4 linked regions of the Homo sapiens genome follow. The protein of the gene in region 1 interacts with the protein of each later gene in a pairwise test. Each region holds a gene or a part of one and is shown in the gene's direction. Other genes may lie near its edges. The genes, in order: PRKAR1A, AKAP5, RFC2 and AICDA.

Region 1 (6,878 bases):
ATGCTCACTACCTGGGTGATGGGATCACTTGTACCCAAATCCTTAGCATCACACAATATACCCAGGTAACAAACCTGCACCTGTACCCCTGAATCTAAAATAAAAGTTGAATGAATAAGTAAATATGCTATTTTTGATGAAGATATGTTTTAGATTAAGATATTTTTACTTGGAACGCTTTAGTGTTAGATCCAAGTTTGCCACCCTTCTGGTTTCTTGGTTAATATTTTCAATTAATGCTCAAGATAAACACCCCTCCTTAGTTTAAATGAGCATTTGCCAGTGAGAAAAGTAGGAAGACATTTTGGCATTCGGGTGTTTGCTGGAATTAGTTATGTCTGAAACCACAACTTTGGGTCTCCTAGGAAGTATAAGTACTCAGTACCATTGTACACCATAAGTAGGTGGTGATGGACTTTGAAATTGGAAATACGTGGATCTGTGTTTAGCCAATGGAAACTTTAGGTGCAAGAACCACCAAGAAATGGACCACCAAAGTATTCCTTCCTTTCACGTTTTAGCTTTCTTAATTCTATTTCTGCTTATCACTCATGTTTATTTTGCTTTTATGGTTTTTGGTATTGTTTCACAAGCATTGTAACAGCAATTATGCAATTTCTTTTTCGTTTTTTGAGTGGGAAGGTCTTGCTGTGTGGCCAGGGCTGCAGTGCAGTGGTGCGATCATGGCTCACTGCAGCCTTGACCTCCTGGGCTAAAGCAATCCTCCCAGTACATGCGTGGGTCACCACATCTGGCTAATTTTTAAAATTTTTTTGTAGAGACGGCGGTCTCACTGTGTTGCCCAGGCTGGTCTTGAACTCCTGGGCCCAAGGAAGCCTCCAGCCTGGGCCTCCTAGAGTGATGGGATTACAGATGTTAGCCACCAGTTAAACAGGAAAATTTACTTATAATCCCACTACTCTAGAAACATATTTTTAAACTGAGTTTCTCAAGGACACAGTCCAAAGGAAAGGCTAACAGACCTTTGAATCAAGGGCAGAAGGCCTCTGGAGAAGGGAAACCATACAGAAACTACAGTGGAACAAATGTCATTTCTGAAACATAATTTACGAATACCAACAAGTTGGTATTCTCACAGTGGCACAGTGGCACTGAAAGAACATTTGCACCATTTGGAAAGCACTGAGGCTATTTAGTTTTTCAGAACAGCTGTCTCACTGAACTTTCCCCGGGCTCAACTGTCTACTGCCCATTTCCCTTTATGTCTCCTAAAGCCCCAGCATATGAGGATTTGGCACCTAGAACAAGGTTGAGTGTGACTGACACAGGAAATGGCCCGTGGCTGGACTGGCGCCTGCATGCAGCTGAATGGGGACACACAGCCAGGACTCAGCAAGGAAGCAGCTGTCACTCAAAGTGCTCAGCTCAATGTCAGCAGCTTGCTTGTTTCCTTATTCTTAGTGTCTTAACTGCACTTGGAAGGTAACACTAATGGTGGGACATAGTGTCACTCTGACTTAACCTTGTAGTTTGGGTAGCTCTGCAGGAAGAGGGAGAAATGGGAAGTAAATTAACATTCATTTAATATATCCCCCACTGTACTGAACACCATATATATATATGTAGACAGAGAGAGAGAGAGAGAGAGAGAGAGAGAGAGAGAGATCTATCTATTCTGCAATGGAGAGTGATTAAGATCACTGCCTGGGTTTAAGCCATGTTAGCTGTGTGGCCATGGGCAAGTCACTTAACTTCTCCATGTCTCATGTTTTTTTCTGTAACAATAACAATATTACCTATGTTAAGAGTTACTATGAGGATTAAATTAATTATGTGTAAAGCCCTTAGATCAGTGCTTGGAACACAGTAAGTGCTATACGTGTGTTTGCTGTTATACCCTTAGTAGTTAACTTCAACAAAGTCCTGTTCATCCTTTTATGACCGAGGAAACGGACACCCATGGAGATTAAGTCAATTACCGGACATGGCAGAGCCTGAAACCAAACTCAGATTTACCTGACTGCAATATTTTCTTCCCATAACATGACCGGGCCTGCTCAATGCTATCAAATTCCCTCTGCTGCTTGCCAGCGTAGGGTTCAGTTTATCAACCCTTCTTTGTACTGTCAAGAGTGAAATCCTATCTGACTGAGGCTCTTTTATCCCCATTTCTGATCAACCCTGGAGAAGGGCCAATGGTCAACATTTGGGGAGTCAGTGAAAGGAGAAACTTCCCTTTTCCATTCCCCCCTGTAAGCCTGATTGCCCTTTTGATATCGCCTATGTATCCCTATCAGAAGGCAGTGAATAACATAACTAAATAAATCATCTGATGGACAGTACCCTTAGAGCCTGGTGGATTTGGGGGAGCAGTCGGCCTCCGAGGGCAGCGCTGCCCAATAGGAATATAATGGGAGCCATCTGTGTAACTTTAAACTTTTTAATAGCTACACTAAGAATTAAAAAACAAAAGTGAAATTAACTTTAATATTTTACCTAATATATCAAAAATATTATCATTTCAATCTGGAATCAATATAAACACTATTGAGCTACTTTTTTGTATTGTGTTGAGTTCATGATTTACTTTAAACATACAGCCCTTGAAGTATATACAATGTTACTACAACAGCTCCTGGACACTTGCATATGTGTGTATTTTGCTTTTTTGTATTGTGTTGAATCCATTATGAATTTTAAGCACACGGCCCTAGAAATATATACAATGCTACTAAAGCAGCCCCTAGCCAGACACTTGGACATGTTTCCTTGATGGGCCTTCTTTATTGAGTTACAGACTTGATGTGTCTAAAATTGTACCGTCTCCCTTTTCTTCCTCCTTAGACAGATACTCTGATGGAAAAAAAAAATGGCTGAAAGAGTAAAGTCGCTTTTCCTCCGAATTTTCCCCATTAGTGCAGCTTGTCTGGACAGCTGCGATTTCTTGTTGGGTCACAGGGCATTTTTGACAATCTGCACGCTCTGCACTTCTCCCTCTGTGAGGTCAGGAGTGATGGGGGGGCACTTCAGGTTCTAGAAGGACTCAGGCCTCCTCTTGGACCCTGACAAAGTCCTTTCCCGTGCCTGGTTTCCACAGGGACGGTGTTGCCTGCACAGACGACAGCACCCCCGGCGGGGGAGAGCGGCCCCAGCGGAGACTCGGCAGGGCTCAGGTTTCCTGGACCGGATGACTGACCTGAGCCCGGGGCCCGGGCGGCGCTGGCCGGGCACAGGATGCGCGGCCCGGAGAGCGCATCCCGGCCATCCGCCCGCGCTCGGCCCCGCAGCGCAGCTGCTGCAGATCCGCGGGGGCCGCCACCTCCTCCGGGGGCTGGCAGCGACAGGACTCTCCCCGCCCCGGCCCGGGGCCCTCCCTTGCAGGGGCTGCGGGGAGGAGTCGCCCACCTGTCATCTGAGACGCCCCACGTGGGTCGGCCAGGGAGGGGGTGGAAAGGAGGGAGAAAAGGCAGAGGCGTCAAGGGAGGCCGGAGGGAGAGTGGGGTGGACAGAGGAGCGGAGGGACGAGAGGGAAGCGCACGATAGCTGCGCGGAGAGAGAGCGAAGAGCAGGCGGAGGAACAAAGGCGACCCAAGACACCCAGAGAGGGACAGGTAAGGAGGGGCAGGTGAGCAGGAAGGAGGAGAGAACCGGGCTAGGGAGACTGCGGAAAGGAGAAGTGGCGGGCGTGAGGAAACTGCTGTGGATAAGGGACGAGTAAGATGGAAAGAATGGCGGAAGACGAACGACCGCAGAGTGAGGGTCCTTCCAAGAGCGACCAGGGGGGAGGAACTGGGGCTGTTGCGCCCTTAAGGTTGCTAAGGCGACGGTTCTGGCCAGAGCGAGGCGCATTGACGTCAGTAGCCGAACGCTGATTGGCTGCGGCCAGGCCGTTTCCGGTGGAGCTGTCGCCTAGCCGCTATCGCAGAGTGGAGCGGGGCTGGGAGCAAAGCGCTGAGGGAGCTCGGTACGCCGCCGCCTCGCACCCGCAGCCTCGCGCCCGCCGCCGCCCGTCCCCAGGTGAGTGGGGTCGGCCGGGGGCTCAGGCGAGGTGAGCTTCGTCGCTTCGCAGCCGGTTTGCGGGAGCTGGACCGATCCAAGATGGCGTCACGGGGAGCGACCTGCAGGGGGACGGCCGCACCCCCTGCCCCTCCCCGGCCCGGCGGGCGCCTCCCCGCAGGCCTCACGCCCCCGGCTCCGAGTCTGCATCCTCAAGGCCGTCTGGGCGTTGGCTTTGGTGCGGGGCTCCCCAGCCGCCCCGCTCGCGCTCGCTGCCCCCACCCCACGGCTCCTGGGGCCCTGGGCCCTCCGCGGCCCTCCCCGGCCGCCTTCGCCCCCGCGCGCCGCGGCCTCTTCGCTCACCCTCCCCCATTTCCTGAAGGACAACGGCTCTATTTTACTGGGGTCCGCCATCGTCTCGTCCGCCGGTCCTGGCTCTTCTTGTAAGCCGGTAGTTTTCCTCTCCACTTTTGACGACTCGTCATTGCTAGCAGTAGCCTTTCCTCTTCATAGCGGAGTGATCTTTCCCCCAACACGACGGTCTTAGTCGGGCTCCTGAATTTCCTCTTGTCCCCTTTCACCTCTCTCCCTTTCCCAATTTTGCCCCCCTGAGGCCTCCTCGCCACCACTGTGGCCTTCCGACTGGCGTAGCTTGAAGTCTCGGCTTCCCTTCATTTTGTGGTCATGACCGTGGCCTACGTGAAGTGAAGGGCATTTTCCTGCCCTTCTTCTAGAAAATACACGGTACCTATTAACCTCTTCAGCTCAGAGCCTGTGGTGACGACCGTCCTACTCCTTGAGAGATTCCCAAGAGATCCGTCTTTTTAGCAGAGCGAGGAAAGCAAACACTTACTCAAGATGACCCTAGGGGAGCCGTAACTTGGCTGGTCTAAGGGGGTGCGGTCTGAATCAGGAACAGTTTCTCAAAGTGTTTTTATTTATTTCCCAGAATGTAATCCTTTCGAAACAATTTTGTCACAACTGAATTTTCAAAAGAATGAATCTGAGTGTTTTGTTTTACATAGAGACAATGCAGCGAAAGTTTTAAAGCAGTTAAATAATTGTGTGTGGGGAGGGAAGGCTAGGTTGTTGGGCTTTACAAATAAGTACACATAGAGAATCCGGGTAACTCGATTAAAAATATTAAGACTGTGAAGTCTGGTTATTCAGGGATTTACATGGTGACTGCATTAATTTTGGTACATTTCTGTTCGTATACTGTCCTATTACCGGTGGCTATCTTTTTGGTTTTCGTAATACATTAGTTGTTTCAAACAAAAACACAGTTTCACTCCTTAGGCCCAGTTCTCTCATCTCTACCAGCCAAAGACCTGATCTTAGAATGATTGATCATTTGAATGTTCTTAAAATATGACAATGCTTTGAAGCATGAAAGATCTGATTTATGATTGTTCTTGGTGGCCTTTAAGTATTATTTGAAATGCAGACAATTCTACTGAAGTGGATCTTCAGTTCATATGATTGCCTGACCTGGAGAAGTGGCTTGTATAAATCTATCCTAAAGTAAATGCGCGTTTTTGTTTTTGTTTTGCCTGTTTAAAGTAGCAGCATGATTATTTTTCCATGGCTTCTAATTTATGTGCTTGTCTTGGAGCCACGAACTTTCTAATGGTCTGTTAATTAGTCTACTTGTTGTTGACCTTTATGGTGAAAGTTGTCAAAACAAAATGAGTAACAGTGTAGCACTTTAGAATAGCTCTTTACTCTGTTAATTCTTTCTATAAGTTCTTTTAAATTTACAGTTTCATCTCAATAGTTTACAATGCATTATAATTGGAAAAGTCTGATTAGTATTGAATTCAGTTGCTGAGTGGAGGGGACCACACTCTTGTCTTCTACTCTTAAGTGCTTAGTAATTAGGAGTTGGAAGGAAAACAGTATATGACCCTGTTGTTAAATTAGTAAACTTTTAATTCTAGGGTAAGGTTAGCTGCTCATCATTATCTCTGTTTGCTTTACTTTACATAAAGGTACCATAATTCGAATCCTCTAAAATCCATTAAATGCAATTTATCCATTAAATGTAATCCATTAAATGCAATTTATCTATTGAATCTTCATGCAAGTTTGAAACTTAAGTGTTTTAACATTCTCCTGTCAAGATGAAGAAAATATTTTGACAATTTTCTGTCCAAATGTTTTACAGTTTATGTGGTAAGAATTCTCCCCTCCCCCAACTAAGGATTTTCCTTCTTTTACCACTAGTGTATTATCATTTAGGGGTGGAATCTGGCAAACGAGTCTGGAATAAAGGTTGCTTTTAAAACTCATCTAATTTTCTTGTGTGTTTTTAAAAATTTTGATTATGCTAGTAGTTGGCTAATCAGATCCTCACTCCAGTGGTTTGCTCTGTGACGTTAGGATACTCCCATGGGATAGAAGTTACGTATAGGGAATGTCAGATATTCTTCATTGTGCTGACTTGCTTTCGCTTACAGTTGACTTTTGTGCCCTGGTAATTCTGTATCCTGTTTACCGTTTACCTACTTCCCACGTCATCATGATTTCTTTTGAGGGAGAACTGAATGAAATTCCCTTAAGGGCCTGACTTCAGCACCCGTCTCTGCAGAGGTTAGTGGCTCATACTTCCTCCCAGGAGCTGAGGTTATCGACTCTCACTGTTGCCTACAGAGCACAGATCCTGAACTAAATGAAACATTTACTTGGAATAATGCTAATTCTGTACATATTTTATTCCCTAGTCCCCACTTCCCTGTTTAAAAACAAAATCTACTTAGAAAAAAATCCCTGTGAATCAGTTGTCTAATGAATTTAGCAAGTTAAATGCCAGATTGACATTTTGCTTTATAGTTTATACAAGCATGTGTGTGTTTTTTTCTCGCAGAGAACCATGGAGTCTGGCAGTACCGCCGCCAGTGAGGAGGCACGCAGCCTTCGAG
Region 2 (6,536 bases), on another chromosome or scaffold:
CTGAAAGGCAGAAGGAAAAGGCATCCATGCTTTGCTTCAAGAGAAGAAAGAAAGCAGCCAAAGCACTGAAGCCCAAAGCTGGCTCTGAAGCTGCTGATGTGGCAAGGAAGTGTCCACAAGAAGCAGGAGCTTCTGATCAGCCAGAGCCCACACGGGGGGCCTGGGCCTCACTCAAACGTCTTGTAACACGCAGGAAAAGGTCAGAGTCTTCAAAGCAGCAAAAGCCATTGGAGGGTGAAATGCAACCTGCAATAAATGCTGAGGATGCTGATCTTTCTAAGAAAAAGGCAAAATCTAGACTTAAGATTCCCTGCATAAAATTCCCAAGAGGGCCAAAAAGGAGTAATCATTCCAAAATTATAGAAGACTCAGACTGCAGCATCAAAGTCCAGGAAGAAGCTGAAATTTTGGATATACAAACACAGACCCCATTGAATGATCAGGCAACAAAGGCTAAGTCAACCCAGGATCTAAGTGAAGGCATCTCACGGAAAGATGGTGATGAGGTCTGTGAATCAAATGTGAGCAATAGCACAACTTCTGGAGAGAAAGTGATTTCAGTAGAACTTGGATTAGATAATGGGCATTCTGCTATTCAAACGGGAACTCTAATCCTTGAAGAAATTGAAACGATCAAGGAAAAACAAGATGTTCAACCCCAGCAAGCAAGCCCACTTGAAACTTCAGAAACAGACCATCAGCAGCCAGTACTTTCTGATGTTCCTCCTTTACCTGCAATTCCAGATCAACAAATTGTGGAAGAAGCCAGTAACAGTACCCTAGAAAGTGCACCAAATGGAAAAGACTATGAAAGTACAGAGATTGTAGCTGAAGAAACTAAGCCAAAAGATACTGAATTGAGCCAAGAATCAGATTTTAAAGAAAATGGGATCACTGAAGAGAAATCCAAATCAGAAGAAAGCAAAAGAATGGAGCCAATTGCTATTATTATTACAGACACTGAAATCAGTGAATTTGATGTTACAAAATCTAAAAATGTCCCTAAGCAATTCTTAATTTCAGCTGAAAATGAGCAAGTAGGGGTTTTTGCTAATGATAATGGTTTTGAGGATAGAACTTCAGAACAATATGAAACACTCTTAATTGAAACAGCCTCTTCTCTAGTCAAGAATGCTATTCAGTTGTCAATAGAACAGCTGGTTAATGAAATGGCCTCTGATGATAATAAAATAAACAATCTTCTACAGTGACTTACTCTCCAGAGTCACGGCAGAAAAAACAAGCTTAATGAAGAATTCTTTTATACATTTGTGGCATTTCTTACTCAGTAACAAATGAGAGATTTATCATCTCTAGAACTTAAAAGGTACAATTCCAGCGCAGAAGTGCTAAAGATTAAGTCAAGTTTATAAAACTCTACCACTGAAATGCAGTCACTTCTGGATTGGAGGAAGTCAGCACAGATTGCAGTGTAAAATGACATAACATACAGGGAGTTGCTAAAATGGCATATGGAGATTGGAGTGCTTTGGGGGAGGAAGGTGTATTTATTGAGCACTTATGGTATGCCATAAGCTTTTTAATGACCTCTGATATAACAAAGTCTGGTTTCCTTTTGATAATTCAGCTCTGTGTATAGGCTAACATCACATTAAGTTTTTAAAAACTTATTTTTTACAGTGCACATATATGTTTAAAATGGTGAATAAGGTGAGCTACTTTTGTGAATGTGATTTGTAATTGTTACATTCCTAAGCAGCAGGCTTAACTCAAAAAATACATTGCATTTTCCCAATTTCAGCAGATAGTGTGCAGAATATGCATATTGATATTAAACGTGAGTGGTTTCCTAGTCTTAAGTCTCTTATAAGCGCTATTTGGCCAGGGGCAGTGGCTCACGCCTATAATCCCAGCACTTTGGGAGGCCAAGGCGGGTGGATCAGCTAAGGTCAGGAGTTCGAGACCAGCCTGGCCAATGTGGTGAAACCCCATCTCTACTGAAAATACAAAAATTAGCTGGGCGTGGTGGTGCACGCCTGTAATCCCAGCTACTTGGGAGGCTGAGGCAGGAGAATTGCTTGAACCCGAGAGGTGGAGGTTGCAGGGAGCCAAGATTGCACCACTGCACTCCAGTCTGGGCAACAGAGCGAGACTCCTTCTCAAAAAAAAAAAAAAAAAAAAAGAGAACCATTCACAAATCCTTCAATCAGGCAAATTGTTACTAAGTGCAAAAGTGTAGAAACAGGGAGAGTGGGTTTTTCCCCCGCTTTTCTTTCTGCCTCAACAGATCTGTATATATCCATTTCTGCATGGATTTATCTGTGAAAAGTTAAAAAATGAAACAGCAAAAACAAAACAAGGGGAATATTATTCTTCATCCAGGAGAAGGGAAAATTCCCAAGTAAATTATCACAGATAATATAGGATTCATCTTGCAGAATTACTTCTTTAAGAGCCATATTCATCAACTTCTCTCCAAAGAGGGGAGAGTAGATTCAAAGCCAGCCTGGTAGTAATGGTCCTGGAAAATCCTAATAATCTAGTGCAAATATTTATTCTCGGCCAAAAATGAGCCATGAATGTGGGTGAATAGAAAAGTGAAAAGTTATTGCTAAAGCACATTATAATTTAAATGTCAGTATTCCTTCATGTCTGTGTGTTGAGACCAGTAAAAAGCATTTTACATGAATATTGAAAGTTAACTTTTTCATCACTATTTTCTTTTCTTTTTTTTTTTTTTTTGAGATGGAGTCTCACTCTGTCGCCCAGGCTGGAGTGCAGTGGCGCGATCTTGGCTCACTGCAAGCTCCACCTCCTGGGTTCACACCATTCTTCTGCCTCAGCCTCCCAAGTAGCTGGGACTACAGGCGCCCACTACAACGCTCGGCTAATTTTTTGTATTTTTAGTAGAGATGGGGTTTCACCGTGTTAGCCAGGATGGTCTTGATCTCCTGACCTCATGATCCTCCCGCCTCGGCCTCCTAAAGTGCTGGGATTACAGGCATGAGCCACCGCACCCGGCCTTCATCACTATTTTCAATCCAGATATACTTTACAAAAATGAGAAGGGCTTATTTGCATTTTTATTTACATATTGAAAGGGAAGCATCTGATCTCATCAATGATTGCCATATTTTTTGAAAAAGTAATCCTATTTCAATCTTTCCTTGTGTGAAATGGCCATAATACCAGAGTGCACTTCCCTACCTCACAGGTTAGGATTCAAAGTGTGTATTCCCCCATTGTGTAAATTGAGTGATTGTGTTACTACTTGAAACAGATGAAGTAATAAAGATGAAGTATGAGATGTAAGGTATTTGTTCAAGAGCTCCACTTGGAGGAAATAATGCACATTAGATGATTTTAAATGATCTGGGTGAATTCTTGCATTGTGTATGGATTGCATATAGAAAGTATTTGCTACTTTGTCCTACAGAATCATCTTCATTTCTTTCTGTAAATACATATTGAGACCTCTAACAAAAGAAACTAATCTGACTTGGAAATTGAACCAAATCATGGATATTATTAGCAAGATTCTTTGCTGAAGTGCAAAAATATTTCCCCCAGATTTTCCTACCTTCATGCTTATAATCCGGGGAGGAGGGTGGAAATCCTGAGCAAGATGAAAAGTGTCATTCAAAACACATGACCCAAGAAGTCAATTTCTTTTAATTGTACAACTTTTAAACATTAAAAACAAAAAAGACGAGTCATCTTCTCTGAAAACACTCTTTAACTCACTATATGTGGTGCTAATGGACTTGGACAGCTACCAGCTATCATATTTAAAAGTGAACCATTTTAAAAACCTGACTAAGGTTGGTGCATTTTACAGTGTATTGAAGAATCCTGCCCTCATTTACTGCAAGGATGCCTCCAAGCCAATACACTTGCATTGTAAATGTTTAGTAATCTCATGAACAAGCAAAAAGTATAGTACTTAGCAGTTATTGGAAATATTTTGGGGGATTTTTAAAAAAACAGATAAATGGTAAATATGTGCAATGAATTTTTTGGTTAAGAAAGTAAAATTTTATCTAATACTAGGTTTTTACTTTTTTCACTGTGGTTTGATATATATTTTTGGTTAGAATGTACTGATTGTTTTTATGATAAGATGTATATTTTACTTGCATTCATTCTTAAGAGGTTTCTGTTTTTCTATTGAGAATATCTGTTGAATTAAGTAGGATTTCAGTTAGAAAAAGGAATTCCGAAATTAACTGGTCTCAATCTGATTATATGTGCTACATGGCCAAATCCTATTACAGTGAATTCTAAGGTGATTCAAATTGTTTTATTGTTATAGAAATATGCAGAAATCAGATGGCTTCAGAGTCATAAAATATTTTTCTTGTAATAGTATTTAAGCAATTTGACCTTATATGCAAACGTTAAGTGAATATAAATAAGTTCTGTTTCAATTCATGTCCATTTAACAACATTAAAATAATTATTAGGAACACCACATGAATTTTCTTTACATTTGCTGTGGTATAAATTCTGCTTTTAATGAATGTTTATTTATTTATTAGCCAAAATTCAGTTTCTCTTTGAACCCAGAATTTTGCAAAGCTGGGGGTTGGGGAGGGGGATTATTAGCTACTTGTTAACTTTTTCAGCATATTATCATTCCTCTTTTAAGACTCAAGTATTATTCACTTTGCTTCTTACAACCCAGAGAATGTGAAAATTCTCCTCTATTTTATGTAGCACTATTCACTTAACATTTTTTCAAAGCACTTTATAGGATATAAAAATAGTACCCGGTAACATTTAAGTAAAGGTAGCAGAAAACAAAAGAACTTTCAAACAGAAATTATGTTCCCTGCCACCTCCTCCACCTCAAAGAATAATAAGCATGTGGCATAAATGGAGTTGTTCAGAAAAGCTGTCTGCATAATTTTCCTTCAAGGTAATGTATTTGACAGCATGAAGTTTGTGATGATCTTACTTGGTCTACTACTCAGCGGAGTCTTAGAATCTCTTTTATTTACTTCTGAGAGATTGTTATTTCACCAGTATATGTGAACAGGCTTGCTAAAGGCATTAAAGATATGGATCATGGAGGCACCAAATTTGGCTTCTGTATGCAATCCAGCATTAACTTCATCCATACATTTCTAACTTCATCCATAAATTTCTAACTTCAAGTTACCTTATTTTTTATAGTTAAGAATGTTTTTCGAGGTTTACAACAGAATTTAAAAAATAATTGTTAGGCTTTAGAATCCCACTGTTTGAAAAGATCCTTTTAATGTCAACTTTATTGAAATATGTAGTCTACTTTCTAATTTCATCTGATAATATAGCAGGATTTGATTTTTCTGCCTGCCATTTGTGCATTTAAAAAAAAATCCTCATTTAAGATTTAGAGTTCTTTAGGTTCAAATTCCTATGATGTTTTATTGGGTAACATGAACTCTCTTATACATAATTCAAAATTTCAATCCATGGTATATTTTATGGTACATTTTGAAAAGAAAATTTGTAATGCTCCTTAGTTACAAAAATTAGAAGGAAGCTACATAAAATTCAGGTGTCCTAATTAAATTCAATTTGATTCAACACACGTATTAGGCATAACTCATACCTAACACTATTTGATAAGGGAGACAGGCTCCCTGCCATCCAAGAACTCAACCTAGGGAGCAGTGACAACAGAAACCGGGTTGGGTTAAGGCAAAGAGCCATGGATAATGCTGCAACATGAGTGGCACAGAGGGGAGTACACAGAGAGAGCAATTAATTTGGTGTGGGGAAGGTGGTGATCTGAATACAGCAGCAGTTTGAAAGTGTTCCGTTTTTAAATAAACAGTATGCTTATTTTGATTTGTGACTAGGTGTAGAAAAAAGCCTGCATAGTGTTACATATTTATAGTAGTTCTTTGTAAAAATGTTAAGTGGATGAGCTATTATGAAAGTAAAAGTTTCATTTTTTCTCATTAAAATTAGTACTAAATTACTATGGATCAGATGATAATATTAAATAGTACTCTGTAGAAAAAAGGTTTCAAGTTGAATTAATTTATGTACTGATTATTAATACAGAATAAATGTTATATTGACTCATGTTTATTCAGATCTTTTAAAAGAACTGTGGGCAAACTATGTTCATTTCCTATAACTGTAAAGATCACATTGATGGAACTACTGAGTTCGCACTACCAAAAGTTCTACTCTGCTAATTGGGAATTGGACAGAGATTTTACAACAACACTCCTAAAACAGTCCTTCAGCAAGACAAATATAAACACCTACAATGCTGAACTAATTCAGCCAAAAGGGCAGTTCTGAATTTGATGACATTTGTGAATTTGACAAAAGCACACTGTTTTCATCTCTTGATATACTCATTATTTTCTGCATTAACCTATGAATTGTTCATCTTTATGATTTTTCAAAAGACTAATCAATGTGAAAATGCTAGAATTATTCAGACGGTACATACTAAAGGTGGGTGTTTAAAAAGTTCTGTGTTTACTAAGACACTGATTTCATTTTGGTAATGTTAACACTCTATCTTTTCGTAACCACAGCCCGATGATAACAATCAGGCTCTAGGAAGGACT
Region 3 (6,429 bases), on another chromosome or scaffold:
CCCCACCCACTGCTGGTAAAGGAGATGATCCAGCACTGTGTGAATGCCAACATTGACGAAGCCTACAAGGTTGGCCTCCTTCCCCCCGTCCTGGCAGAGGAACCGCTCACTTCTTGGGCAGAGGAGAGCGGGAGCCCTTCTGGTACCAGGGACATTATACACATCACTCCATTCATTCTTGAAATCTTACTTGGGAGACTGAGGCAGGAGGATTTGTTGAGCCTTGGAGGTCAAGGCTGCAGTGAGCTGTGATTGCGCCACTGTACCCCAGCCTGGGTGATGGTGAGACCCTGTCTCAGGAAAAAAAAAAAATTATTAATATCATGCTATGTGTTAATCTGTCTAGGAACTGGAAAAAAAAAATTATGCTAGGAGTTGGGTGCACTTTACTGATGAGAAAACTGATTCAGAGGCTGAATTCCTTGTCCTAAATCACTGTGTTTGTTTATTTATTTATTTATTTATTTATGTAGAAACAGGGTCTTACTCTGTTGCCCAGGCCGGAATGCACTGGCGCGGTCACAGCTCACTGTAGCCTCTACCTCTCAGGCTCAGGCGATCCTCCCACCTCAGCCTCCCAAGTAGCTGGGACTACAGGCACATGTCACTATGCCCAGCCCTAAGTCATGGTTTAAAAGCAGTAGAACTAGAATTCAAAATGGTGTTTTTCTCCTGTAATTATATCCTCTGCAGGAGAAATTTGTCAGCCAAAGTCAGGAGGAAAGACCAGCCTAGCTCCTTCTCCAGGGAAGCCATCTTCTCTCCAGTTAAGGGGAAGTGTCCCCATCCATTCTCATAGGCACAGGCATTCTGGGATCCAGCAGCCCCCAGCTAGCCAGGAGAGGAGGGAGCAGGAAGATTCTAGCCTCACAATGGGACTGAGTGCTGTGAGCAGATTCCAGCAGATGTGGCTGGGGTTCAGGCGACCTCAAGCCACATGGGTGTGGTGTGGTTGGTGTGGTTCAAGGTCATTGATCCAGTCATGGTTTCCCTCTGCCTACCCCCTAACAAACTAGGTTGGAAGTTGACTGGGTTTAGGGCATAGTTCCACCCAATGTGAAACCGGAGTGCAAGGCGGGGAGACTGAGCAGAGACCCAGGCCCAGGGTCCCTGAGTAGACCTGAAGAAAGCCTTCAGATTTGTGGGCACAGAGCTTCTCTGCCTCCTGAATTCACCCCAAGATGCCAAAACAAAGGCAAAAAGGCCTGCCTCCAGACGCTGCAGCCTGGGTGGGGCAGGGTGGGTGGGAAGCAGGAGGCTGGGATTACCCAGTCAGGGTGTGCTCCAGGCTCGTCCTGCAGAGGTTGCATTGGGACTGCAGCTGGATGAAGCTAGCAGATGAATGGTCTGCTTTTTCCACTTTGCTATACCTAGTCATCAGATTAATAAAGCATTTTAAGAGCTCCGGATCAAGAGATTACATGGGTGTGGTAGTAGACCATTTTGCAACACAGCTTAACACATTTGCGATAGGCTGGGCTCAGTGGCTCATGCCTGTAATCCCAGCACTTTTGGAGGTCGAGGCAGGAGGATTGCTTGAGGCCGGGAACTTGGGACCAGCCTGGGCAATATAGCAAGACTCTTATCTTTATATTACTGAAAAAAAAATATTTAAGCAAAACAACAATACATTTGCAATGTTATCTCTCTATCTGCCATGAAAATCAGTTAAGGTACCCCCATGTGACCTGAAGGGTGGGCCCCACCAGCTGTGGTGAGTCTCAAAATCACATGTCTTCTTACAGTTTAAAGTGGTAAGCAGCCTTTTCTGTCTCCTTTGTCTAGATTCTTGCTCACTTGTGGCATCTGGGCTACTCACCAGAAGATATCATTGGCAACATCTTTCGAGTGTGTAAAACTTTCCAAATGGCAGAATACCTGAAACTGGAGTTTATCAAGGTCGGTGAGAATGTAGAAATGCCTCTGTCCTCAAGAATGTGGCCCATAGTGGCCGGGTGCTGTGGGCCACACCTGTAATCCCAGCACTTTGGGAGGCCGAGGTGGGCAGATCACCTGAGGTCAGGAGTTCGAGACCAGCCTGGCCAACGTAGTGAAAGCCTCTGTCTACTAAAAATACAAAAATTAGCTGGGCATGGCTGGGCGTGGTGGCTCATGCCTGTAATCCCAGCACTTTGGGAGGCCGAGGTGGGCGGATCACCTGAGGTCAGGAGTTTGAGACCAGCCTGGCCAACATGGCAAAGCCCCATCTCTACTAAAAATACAAAACTTAGCTGGGTGTGGTGGCAAGCGCCTATAATCCCAGCTACTTGGGAGGCTGAGGGAGGAGGATCGCTTGAACCTGGGAGGTGGAGGTTGCAGTGAGCCAAGATCGCACCACTGCACTCCAGCCTGGGCAGCAGAGCGAGACTGTCTCAAAACAAAAAAAAAAGACTGTGGGCCCTGGCTTCGCTTTCTCTGCTCACAGGCCTGGCATCTAGAAGGTGCTCAGTGTTTCCCAACTGCAGTGGGAGGGAGGCTGTGTCTTAGTTCCTTTGAGTTACTATAAAGGAATACCAGAGACTGGGTAATGTAGAAAGAAAAGAGGTTGATTTGGCTCACAGTTCTGCAGGCTGTACATGTAGCATGATGCCAGCATCTGCTTCTAGGGAGGGGTTCAGGCTGCTTCTGCTCATGTTGGAAGGGGAAGTGGGAGCCTGTGCATGCAGAGACCACCTGTTGAGAACGGAGGGAGGTGCCAGGCTCATTTGAACAGCCAGCTCTCCAGGGACCTAATTGATCCAGAACTCACTCACTACCTTGGGGTGGGCACCAAGCCATTCACGTGGGATCTTCCTCATGACCCAAACATCCCCACATTGGGGACCAAATTCCAAATGAGATTGGAAGGGGACAGACGTCCAAACTAGATCAACGTGGCTGATTGTCCTGAGGACCAAGTTTGTTTCACACAGTTCTGATTTTCTTCATTCAAGGCTCTCTTGTGTATTGACTGATTGATTGATTTTTCAAGGTTAGATTAATTGAGGTTTAATTTACATAGAGTAAAATTCAGCCTGTTAGGTACAGGACAAACGCACTCAGTCATGCAAACACTATCACCATCAGGATGCAGAATCTGTCATCCCAGAACAACTCATGTGTCCCTTTGAAGCCAGCCCCCTCCCCGACTACCACTTGGAAACTACCGATGTAGTTTCTGTTTCATGGGATACAGTTTTCCAGAATATCATATAAATGGGATCATGTAGAACTTAGCCTTGTGAGTTTGGCTTCTTTCTTTCACTGTAGCAGAAATGCCTTTCAGATGTGTCCACGCTGGTACTTCTATCCATGAGTCAGTCCGTGTTATCACTGAGAAGTAATCCATCCTGTGCGTGTACCACAGTTTGCTTATCTGTCCATCAGCTGGAGGACATTTGGGTTTACAGATTGTGGTGACTGTGAATAAAGCCAGTGTAAACATTTGCATATATGGATTAGTGTGAATGCAAATGTTAAGTTTTTCTTTTTCCCAAGTAAGTTCCCAGGGGTGAAATTGCCTGGGAAAATGATAAGTGTATGTTTTACTCGATAAGGAACTGCCAAACGGTTTTCCGAAGTGGCTGCAGCACGTGCATTCCCACCAGCATTCCGGAGGATCCTCAACCTAGCCACCACATGGAGTGCTCAGTTTGGTTTTTAAGCCATTCTAATAGGTGTGTAATGACCGGATGCAGTGGCTTACACCTGTAATCCCAGCTACTCGGGCGGCTGAGGGAGGAGGATCGCTTGAACCCAGGAGGTGGAGGTTGCAGTGAGCTGAGATCACACCCCTGCACTACAGCTTGGGCGACAAGAGTGAGACTCCATCTTAAAAAAAAAAAAAAAAAAAAAACCAATAACAACAACAACAAAATAACCTAATAGGCATGTGATGAGATCTCATTGTGCCTTTAATTTGCATTTCCCTAATTACTATGCTGAACATTTAATCATGTGCTCGTTTGCCATCCAGAATCTTCTTTGATGAAACATCTGTTCATATATACCCATTTTTTAAAATTTTTACATTTTTTATTTTAATTGTACTGTATTTTTTGTTTAGAGATCATGTTAAGACCGGCCAATTTTTATATTTTTGGTGGAGACGGGGTGTCCCCGTGTTGCCAAGGCTGGTCTTGAACTCCCGGGCTCAAGTGATCCTCCCGCCTCGGCCTCCCAAAGTGCTAGAATTACAGGTGTGAGCCACTGCGCCTGGCCTACCTTTTTTATGTTTTTGAGAGACAGGGTCTTGCTCTGTCACCCAGGCTGGAGTGCAGTGGTGCGATCATAGTTCACTGCAGCCTCAACCTTCCATGCTCAAGCAATCCTCCCACCTCAGGCTCCCGAGTAGCTGGGACTGCAGGCATGTGCCACTACACTTGGGTCATTTTTATTTTCTTTTTTTCGTAGAGTTTGGGTGTTGCTATGTTGCCCAGGCCCAACTCTGGGCAAGTGATCCTCCTGCCTCAGCCTCCCAGAATGCTGGGATTACAGGTGTGAGCTACTGCTCCAGGTCTAAATCTACCCATTTTTTAATTGGGTTGTTTGATTTTTATTACTGAATTTATTTACTTATTTATTTTTGAGATGGAGTCTTGCTCTGTTGCCCAGGCTGGAGTGCAGTGGCACTATCTCAGCTCACTGCAACCTTCGCCTCCCAGGTTTAAGTGATTCTCCTGCCTCAGCCTCCCGAGTAGCTGGGATTACAGGCGTGCGCCACCATACCTGGCTAATTTTTGTATTTTTAGTAGAGATGGGGTTTTACCATGTTGGTCAGGCTGATCTCGAACTCCTGGGCTCGTGATCCACCTGCCTTGACCTCCCAAAGTACTGGGATTACAGGCATGAGCCACCACGCCTGGACTTTATTACTGAATTTTTGAGAATTCTTTATACAGTCTGGATGCAAGTTCTTTATCAGATATATAAATATTTTCCTCTAGCCTGGCTTTCCGTGCCACCACCCCGCCCCCCCTCGCCCCACCCATTTTCTTAACAGTTTCTTTGAAAGAACTATCAGCATCCTTTTAAGAAATAAATAGAACTTTAGGTAAACATAATCCATTGCATCTTAGCATTCATTTTCCGGCTGGGGTTGGAATTCCTCATGCTGATTTTGAAAAAACCATTAGTTCAGTTTGTTTCTGTTTTTATTTTTATTTTTTTCAGTTCAGATTTTAAAAAAGAACTCCCCCACTTATTAACCAGATTTGAATTTGGTTTGTTTTTCAGGAAATTGGATACACTCACATGAAAATAGCGGAAGGAGTGAACTCTCTTTTGCAGATGGCAGGCCTCCTGGCAAGGCTGTGTCAGAAGACAATGGCCCCGGTGGCCAGTTAGAGCAGAGACTTCACTGACTGACTTACAGGTGCCCTATTCTGAGGTACAGGAGCCGCGGCTTTCTGATGGGGGAAAATGCCGCCTTAGGCTGGAGCCAACATGACTGTCCTTTAAACTCCAGTGGCTGGCCAGGCACGGTAGCTCACGCCTGTAATCCCAACACTTTGGGAGGCCGAGGCAGGTGGATCACCTGAGGTCAGAAGTTCAAGACCAGCCTGGCCAACATGGGGAAACCCTGTCTTTACTAAAAATATAAAAATTAGCTGGGTGTGGTGGCGGGCACCTGTAATCCCAGCTACTCGGGAGGCTGTGGCAGGAGAATCGCTTGAACCCAGGAGGTGGAGGTTGCAGTGAGCCAAGATCACACCATTGCACTCCAGCCTGGGCGACAGAGTCTCCATCTGGGGAAAAAAATTAAATAAATAAACTCCCGTGACTTGCATGTTTGCTTCTGGGACGTCTGTGCCCCGCAAGTGTTTGAGTTTGGCCTCCACCCCATTGATGCGGTGACGGGGCGGAAAGGCGCAGAGAAGCTGAGGGCGGTCTCTGATCTGTGTGTGGGTTGACATTTTAGCTAATAAAGCCTTGCAGTGTTTGTTGGCAATAAGGTGACCATGTGAAGCCTCGAGAAAAACCAGCTTCCTGTCTCTACGGGCCTTGGCAGCCTACAAGTAGAAAAGGCGATTAGATAGTAGACCCACAAGCTCATCTCGGTTCTTCTAGAAGCCTGAAGGCGCCACTTCCCCAGGGCGAGGGCAGGGTTTGCTGTCTTTCCTATTTAGACTGATTTCTCAGAATGGCCAGGTGGCGAGCCTTTCAGAGAGGGCGGCAGAGTGGAGAGATGCAGCCCAGCCCTCAGGAAAACACCGTGATGCTCTTCCTGTGTTCTAGACCATACTCTTTGCGCTTGCTTTAGAATTCCCCAAAGAATTTCGTACTAATTTGTAGAATTGCCTTTTTTTTTTTTTTGGTAAGATACTATTTTTTTCCCTTTTTGTTTTGTTTTGATTTTTGAGATTGGGTCTCACTCTGTCGCCCAGGCTAGAGTGTAGTGGGCCAATCTTGGCTCACTGCAGCCTCAACCTCTTGGGCTCAAGTGATCCT
Region 4 (7,222 bases), on another chromosome or scaffold:
GAGGTTTCTCCAAAAAAAAAAAACTAAAACTAGAACTACTATATGATCCTCAAAAATTTTAATACAGAACTACCATATTGAGCAATCCTGCTTCTGGGTAAATACCCAAAGAAAACAAAATCAGTGCCTTGAAGAGATAACTCCATGTCCACTGCTGCGCTATTCACAATAGCCAAGATATGGAGACAACCTACGTGTCTGTCGACAGATGAATGGATCAAGAAAATGTGGCACGTATATATATATCAGAATAAGAATATCATTCTGCCTTAAGAAAGGAGATCTTGCCATTTGCAACAACATTGATAAATCTGGAGGACATTATGCTTGGTGAAATAAGCCAGACACAGAAAGAAAAATACTGCATAATCTCACTTATATGTGGAATCTTAAAAAGTTGAACACATAGAAGCAGAAAGTAAAATGGTGAGCCAGCCACAGTGGCTCACGCCTGTAATCTCAGCACTTTGGGAGGCCGAGGTGGGTGGATCACTTGAGGCCAGGAGTTCGAGACCAGCCTGGCCAACATGGTGAAACCCCCGTCTCTACTAAAAATACAAAAATCAGCTGGGCGTGGTGGTGCATGCTTGGAATTCCAGCTAATTGGGAGGCTGAGGCAGGAGAATCCTTTGAACCCAGGAGGCGGAGGTTGCAGTGAGCCGAGATCACACCATTGCACTCCAGCCTGGGCAACAGAGTGAGACTCCGTCTCAAAAAAAAAAAAAAAATAAAATAAGAAAGAAAGAAAGTAAAATGGTGGTTAGCAGGCATGGGGAGGTAGGGAAAATGGGAAGATGTTGCTCAAATGGTACAAAGTTGCAGTTATACAGGATTAATAAGTCTAGAGCTCTATTGTACAGCATGATGACTACAGTTAAAAAAGATTGTATTGGGCCAGGCACAGTGGCTCACACCTGTAATCACAGCACTTTGGCTGAGATGGGAGCATTGTTTGAGCCCAGGAGTTCAAGACCTAACTGAGCAACATAGTGAGATCCTGCCTGTACAAAAAAACAAACAAAAAAATTAGCCCAGTGTGGTAGTGTGCAGCTGTGGTCCCAGCTACTCGGGAGGCTGAGGTGGGAGGATTGTTTGAGCCCGGGAGGTCAACGCTGCAGTGAGCCAAGATCATGCCACTGCACACCAGCCTAGGCAACAGAGTGAGACTCTTGTCTCGAAAAAAAAAAAAAATTGTATACTGGAAATTTTCTAAGACAGTAGATTTCAGATGCGGTCACCACACACACATATCCATACAAGGTTACTATGTGAGGAGATGGATAAGTTAATTAGCTTGACTGTAGTAATCATTTCATTACAGATAACAAAACACCATGTTATGCACCTTAAATATGTGCCGTTTTTATTTAAAACAATAAAACAACCCAATTGTGTGTACCTGTGTGTTATTCTCTTGACAAATGGGTGAAAATATGATAAAAGCCCAACTCGCATCTGAGGATACAACTTAAAGGGATTAGATTTCAAATGCCTGCACCTTCCAGTTGACGCTGCAGATGAATTAGGAGTCTCCATTCTGCTCCTTGACCAACTGTCCTATAAAACTGAGAGTGCCAAAGGCAACTACCGTCTACTATCTTGCTGGTGCCCTGAGGAATTTTTTCAGCAATAATAATTTAGACAAGGCCAGGTGCAGTGGCTCACGCCTGTAATCCCAGCACTTTGGAAGGCTGATATGGGCAGATCACTTGACCCCAGGAGTTCGACACCAGCCTGGTCAACATGGAAAGGCCTCGTCTCTAAAGAAAAATACAAAAATGAGCTGGGTGTGGTGGCACATTCCTGTAGTCTCAGCTCCTCGGGAGGCTGAGGCAGGAGTGTCACTTGAGCCCAGGAGGTCAAGGCCTGCAGTGAGCCATGTTCATGTCACTGTAGTGCAGCCTGGGTGACAGAGAGAGACCCTCCTCAAAATAATAATTATTATTATTACATAATTATTAGAAATAATTATAATTATTATTTTGAATCTCATGGCTAATTAAAAAATAATTTAAACAGATTATTTTACTTGTCTTTAGTTTACTTAGGAGTGTATTTTAAGTGATAAGTGCTAAAGAGAAAAATAATTTAGGGGATGGAGGCAAGGGAGTGTCAGAATGGTGAGATTTTGTTGACATTTTAGATATGGTGACTAGGACAAATCTCAAATACCGGACAGTATTTGAATAAGGACATAAAATATATGATGGTGTAAGCCACAACCATACACAAAAAATAACATTTCAGCAGAGGGACCTCAAGGGCAGAGGAAGGAGTGTGCGCTCTTTGCGTGAGCAAGGGAGAGAGTGGAAGGAGATGCAGCCAGAGGGGTGAAGCAGAGCAGACGGTAGAGGGGCTTGTGGGCCATCTCAGGCTGCTGGCCTATACTGAGAGAATGGGAAGCCATGGAGGGTTATGACAGGGGAGTGACATGACCTTAAATATTCCAGAAGGAATACTCTAGTTGCCATGTGGAGAACAGACTGTAATCGAAGAAGGGGGAGGCAGGAAGGCCAGTTGGGAAGCAAAATGCAATAATCCAGGTTGCTTGGACCTGGAGGTAGTGAGAAGTGGTCAGTTTGTGGCTATATTCTGGAAGCAGAGATAACAGGATTTGCTAATGGAGTGTGCATGGAATTTAAAAGAAAGAGAGGAGCTGAGAGACACTCTGCCCAGGTTTTGCCAAGCAATTGGAAGAATACTGCTGTTTATTGAGATGGGAAAGACGGCAAGAAGAGTAGGTAAGGCAGAGAACAGGGGTTCTGTTTTAGACAGGCTGGAGGTGCTCAGACATCCAAATGGAGATTCTGAGAGGGAAGCTGGATACACTTGTCTTGAGTTTCAAGAAGTGGTCTGATAGATTTGCCTGTGTCCCCACCCAAATCTCATCTTGAATTGTAGTTCCCACAATTCCCACATGTCATGGGAGGGACCCAGTGGGAGGTAGTTGAACAATGGGGGTGGGTCTTTCCCATGCTGTTCTCATGATAGTGAATAAGTCTCACAAGATCTGATGGTTTTATAAAGGGATTTCCCCCTGCGTGAGCTCTCTCTTGCCTACCACCATGTAAGATGTCCCTTGCTCTTCTGCCATGATTGTGAGGCCTCCCCAGCCATGTGGAACTGTGAGTCAACTAAACCTCTTTCCTTTATAAATTACCCAGTCTCAGGCATGTCTTTATTAGCAGTGTGAGAACAGACGAATACATGGTCCAAGCTAGGGCTATTGATTTGAAAATCATCAAGGTATAGATGGTATCAAAGGCTTGAGGCAGGAAGAGAGCAGAGACCCTAGCTGCATTGCTTAGCATTGCATCCCTAGCACCTGGCATAGTTTCCATTAACAGTAGGCATGAAGTATCTACTCAGTGAATAAATAGAATGCATATGGGCTACAGTAGGAGAGAGAAATAAAATCTTTAATAGACCAAGTTCTATGAGAGCACAAAATTAAAGTCTTTTATTTGAAGATCTTAGCCTGTTTTCCAAATTCAGTGCAGCCAGTTAGACACTGAATCTGTCTGGTGAAACAAGCATTTTTGTATTTTGGGGGACTGCTGCTGCTTCTGACTCCAAATTAAGGATTTTTTTTTTTTCTAAAAAAGATGGCTCATGCAAAAATCACTCTTTGGTGTAAATATCTAGTCTTCAAGCAATTCTTGTAATGCAATCAGAAAGAAAAAAATCCATGGTTTGGGAGGCAAAATTTTTGTGTTCTAAATTCTATATAACTGAGTTCATTTGCTTAACTGCAAAGCAGGAGCTGCTAGTGCCTGTCTGTACTGAGGTTCAGAGAGACTGTGGGAATATGGGGGAATTAGAGGCTATCTGAGGCTCTTCAACACAATAACCCAAGAAGCTATTTAAATGCTCTTTAAGGTATTTACATAAATATTACTATTCTCATTGTGCTTTTATTTTGTGTTATCATGATTATAATTGAAGTGTCTACTGTTACTGCCTCCTGATCTTTGCTAGCTATGGAGCATGGACTGGGCTTTTAGAGCAGCAGCCCCAAAGGAACCTAAACATTAAAGCAGAGCTGCCCTCAATGGTTTAACCTGTGTGACTCTGCCTATGACAGCCCCACCCACCCATCTTCACTGGATCCAAATCAGGAGCAAGGCCGTTGGGGTACCTGGTGGGGGTGATGCTGTCAGGGGAGGAGCCCAAAAGGGCAAGCTCAAATTTGAATGTGAAGGGCCAATGCACTGTCAGACTAAGACAGAGAACCATCATTAATTGAAGTGAGATTTTTCTGGCCTGAGACTTGCAGGGAGGCAAGAAGACACTCTGGACACCACTATGGACAGGTAAAGAGGCAGTCTTCTCGTGGGTGATTGCACTGGCCTTCCTCTCAGAGCAAATCTGAGTAATGAGACTGGTAGCTATCCCTTTCTCTCATGTAACTGTCTGACTGATAAGATCAGCTTGATCAATATGCATATATATTTTTTGATCTGTCTCCTTTTCTTCTATTCAGATCTTATACGCTGTCAGCCCAATTCTTTCTGTTTCAGACTTCTCTTGATTTCCCTCTTTTTCATGTGGCAAAAGAAGTAGTGCGTACAATGTACTGATTCGTCCTGAGATTTGTACCATGGTTGAAACTAATTTATGGTAATAATATTAACATAGCAAATCTTTAGAGACTCAAATCATGAAAAGGTAATAGCAGTACTGTACTAAAAACGGTAGTGCTAATTTTCGTAATAATTTTGTAAATATTCAACAGTAAAACAACTTGAAGACACACTTTCCTAGGGAGGCGTTACTGAAATAATTTAGCTATAGTAAGAAAATTTGTAATTTTAGAAATGCCAAGCATTCTAAATTAATTGCTTGAAAGTCACTATGATTGTGTCCATTATAAGGAGACAAATTCATTCAAGCAAGTTATTTAATGTTAAAGGCCCAATTGTTAGGCAGTTAATGGCACTTTTACTATTAACTAATCTTTCCATTTGTTCAGACGTAGCTTAACTTACCTCTTAGGTGTGAATTTGGTTAAGGTCCTCATAATGTCTTTATGTGCAGTTTTTGATAGGTTATTGTCATAGAACTTATTCTATTCCTACATTTATGATTACTATGGATGTATGAGAATAACACCTAATCCTTATACTTTACCTCAATTTAACTCCTTTATAAAGAACTTACATTACAGAATAAAGATTTTTTAAAAATATATTTTTTTGTAGAGACAGGGTCTTAGCCCAGCCGAGGCTGGTCTCTAAGTCCTGGCCCAAGCGATCCTCCTGCCTGGGCCTCCTAAAGTGCTGGAATTATAGACATGAGCCATCACATCCAATATACAGAATAAAGATTTTTAATGGAGGATTTAATGTTCTTCAGAAAATTTTCTTGAGGTCAGACAATGTCAAATGTCTCCTCAGTTTACACTGAGATTTTGAAAACAAGTCTGAGCTATAGGTCCTTGTGAAGGGTCCATTGGAAATACTTGTTCAAAGTAAAATGGAAAGCAAAGGTAAAATCAGCAGTTGAAATTCAGAGAAAGACAGAAAAGGAGAAAAGATGAAATTCAACAGGACAGAAGGGAAATATATTATCATTAAGGAGGACAGTATCTGTAGAGCTCATTAGTGATGGCAAAATGACTTGGTCAGGATTATTTTTAACCCGCTTGTTTCTGGTTTGCACGGCTGGGGATGCAGCTAGGGTTCTGCCTCAGGGAGCACAGCTGTCCAGAGCAGCTGTCAGCCTGCAAGCCTGAAACACTCCCTCGGTAAAGTCCTTCCTACTCAGGACAGAAATGACGAGAACAGGGAGCTGGAAACAGGCCCCTAACCAGAGAAGGGAAGTAATGGATCAACAAAGTTAACTAGCAGGTCAGGATCACGCAATTCATTTCACTCTGACTGGTAACATGTGACAGAAACAGTGTAGGCTTATTGTATTTTCATGTAGAGTAGGACCCAAAAATCCACCCAAAGTCCTTTATCTATGCCACATCCTTCTTATCTATACTTCCAGGACACTTTTTCTTCCTTATGATAAGGCTCTCTCTCTCTCCACACACACACACACACACACACACACACACACACACACACACACAAACACACACCCCGCCAACCAAGGTGCATGTAAAAAGATGTAGATTCCTCTGCCTTTCTCATCTACACAGCCCAGGAGGGTAAGTTAATATAAGAGGGATTTATTGGTAAGAGATGATGCTTAATCTGTTTAACACTGGGCCTCAAAGAGAGAATTTCTTTTCTTCTGTACTTATTAAGCACCTATTATGTGTTGAGCTTATATATACAAAGGGTTATTATATGCTAATATAGTAATAGTAATGGTGGTTGGTACTATGGTAATTACCATAAAAATTATTATCCTTTTAAAATAAAGCTAATTATTATTGGATCTTTTTTAGTATTCATTTTATGTTTTTTATGTTTTTGATTTTTTAAAAGACAATCTCACCCTGTTACCCAGGCTGGAGTGCAGTGGTGCAATCATAGCTTTCTGCAGTCTTGAACTCCTGGGCTCAAGCAATCCTCCTGCCTTGGCCTCCCAAAGTGTTGGGATACAGTCATGAGCCACTGCATCTGGCCTAGGATCCATTTAGATTAAAATATGCATTTTAAATTTTAAAATAATATGGCTAATTTTTACCTTATGTAATGTGTATACTGGCAATAAATCTAGTTTGCTGCCTAAAGTTTAAAGTGCTTTCCAGTAAGCTTCATGTACGTGAGGGGAGACATTTAAAGTGAAACAGACAGCCAGGTGTGGTGGCTCACGCCTGTAATCCCAGCACTCTGGGAGGCTGAGGTGGGTGGATCGCTTGAGCCCTGGAGTTCAAGACCAGCCTGAGCAACATGGCAAAACGCTGTTTCTATAACAAAAATTAGCCGGGCATGGTGGCATGTGCCTGTGGTCCCAGCTACTAGGGGGCTGAGGCAGGAGAATCGTTGGAGCCCAGGAGGTCAAGGCTGCACTGAGCAGTGCTTGCGCCACTGCACTCCAGCCTGGGTGACAGGACCAGACCTTGCCTCAAAAAAATAAGAAGAAAAATTAAAAATAAATGGAAACAACTACAAAGAGCTGTTGTCCTAGATGAGCTACTTAGTTAGGCTGATATTTTGGTATTTAACTTTTAAAGTCAGGGTCTGTCACCTGCACTACATTATTAAAATATCAATTCTCAATGTATATCCACACAAAGACTGGTACGTGAATGTTCATAGTACCT

What was found.
Region 2: the proteins of PRKAR1A (region 1) and AKAP5 interact in binary tests that used the Homo sapiens proteins (3 or more experiments, as listed by UniProt).
Region 3: the proteins of PRKAR1A (region 1) and RFC2 interact in binary tests that used the Homo sapiens proteins (3 or more experiments, as listed by UniProt).
Region 4: the proteins of PRKAR1A (region 1) and AICDA interact in binary tests that used the Homo sapiens proteins (3 or more experiments, as listed by UniProt).

Annotation. Positions count from the first base shown.
Region 1 is NC_000017.11:68,508,571-68,515,448, forward strand, and holds the start of PRKAR1A (cAMP-dependent protein kinase type I-alpha regulatory subunit), read left to right. Parts: upstream 1-3,859; 5' UTR 3,860-3,978; exon of another isoform or gene 3,979-4,408; intron 4,409-6,416; exon of another isoform or gene 6,417-6,549; intron 6,550-6,823; 5' UTR 6,824-6,829; coding exon 6,830-6,878. UniProt on the Homo sapiens protein: Regulatory subunit of the cAMP-dependent protein kinases involved in cAMP signaling in cells.
Region 2 is NC_000014.9:64,468,468-64,475,003, forward strand, and holds the end of AKAP5 (A-kinase anchor protein 5), read left to right. Parts: coding exon 1-1,211; 3' UTR 1,212-6,036; downstream 6,037-6,536. UniProt on the Homo sapiens protein: Multivalent scaffold protein that anchors the cAMP-dependent protein kinase/PKA to cytoskeletal and/or organelle-associated proteins, targeting the signal carried by cAMP to specific intracellular effectors.
Region 3 is NC_000007.14:74,231,002-74,237,430, reverse strand, and holds the end of RFC2 (replication factor C subunit 2), read left to right. Parts: coding exon 1-69; exon of another isoform or gene 70-75; intron 76-1,785; coding exon 1,786-1,899; intron 1,900-5,214; coding exon 5,215-5,325; 3' UTR 5,326-5,929; downstream 5,930-6,429.
Region 4 is NC_000012.12:8,609,851-8,617,072, reverse strand, and holds the start of AICDA (single-stranded DNA cytosine deaminase), read left to right. Parts: upstream 1-4,213; 5' UTR 4,214-4,305; coding exon 4,306-4,313; intron 4,314-7,222. UniProt on the Homo sapiens protein: Single-stranded DNA-specific cytidine deaminase. Involved in somatic hypermutation (SHM), gene conversion, and class-switch recombination (CSR) in B-lymphocytes by deaminating C to U during transcription of Ig-variable (V) and Ig-switch (S) region DNA.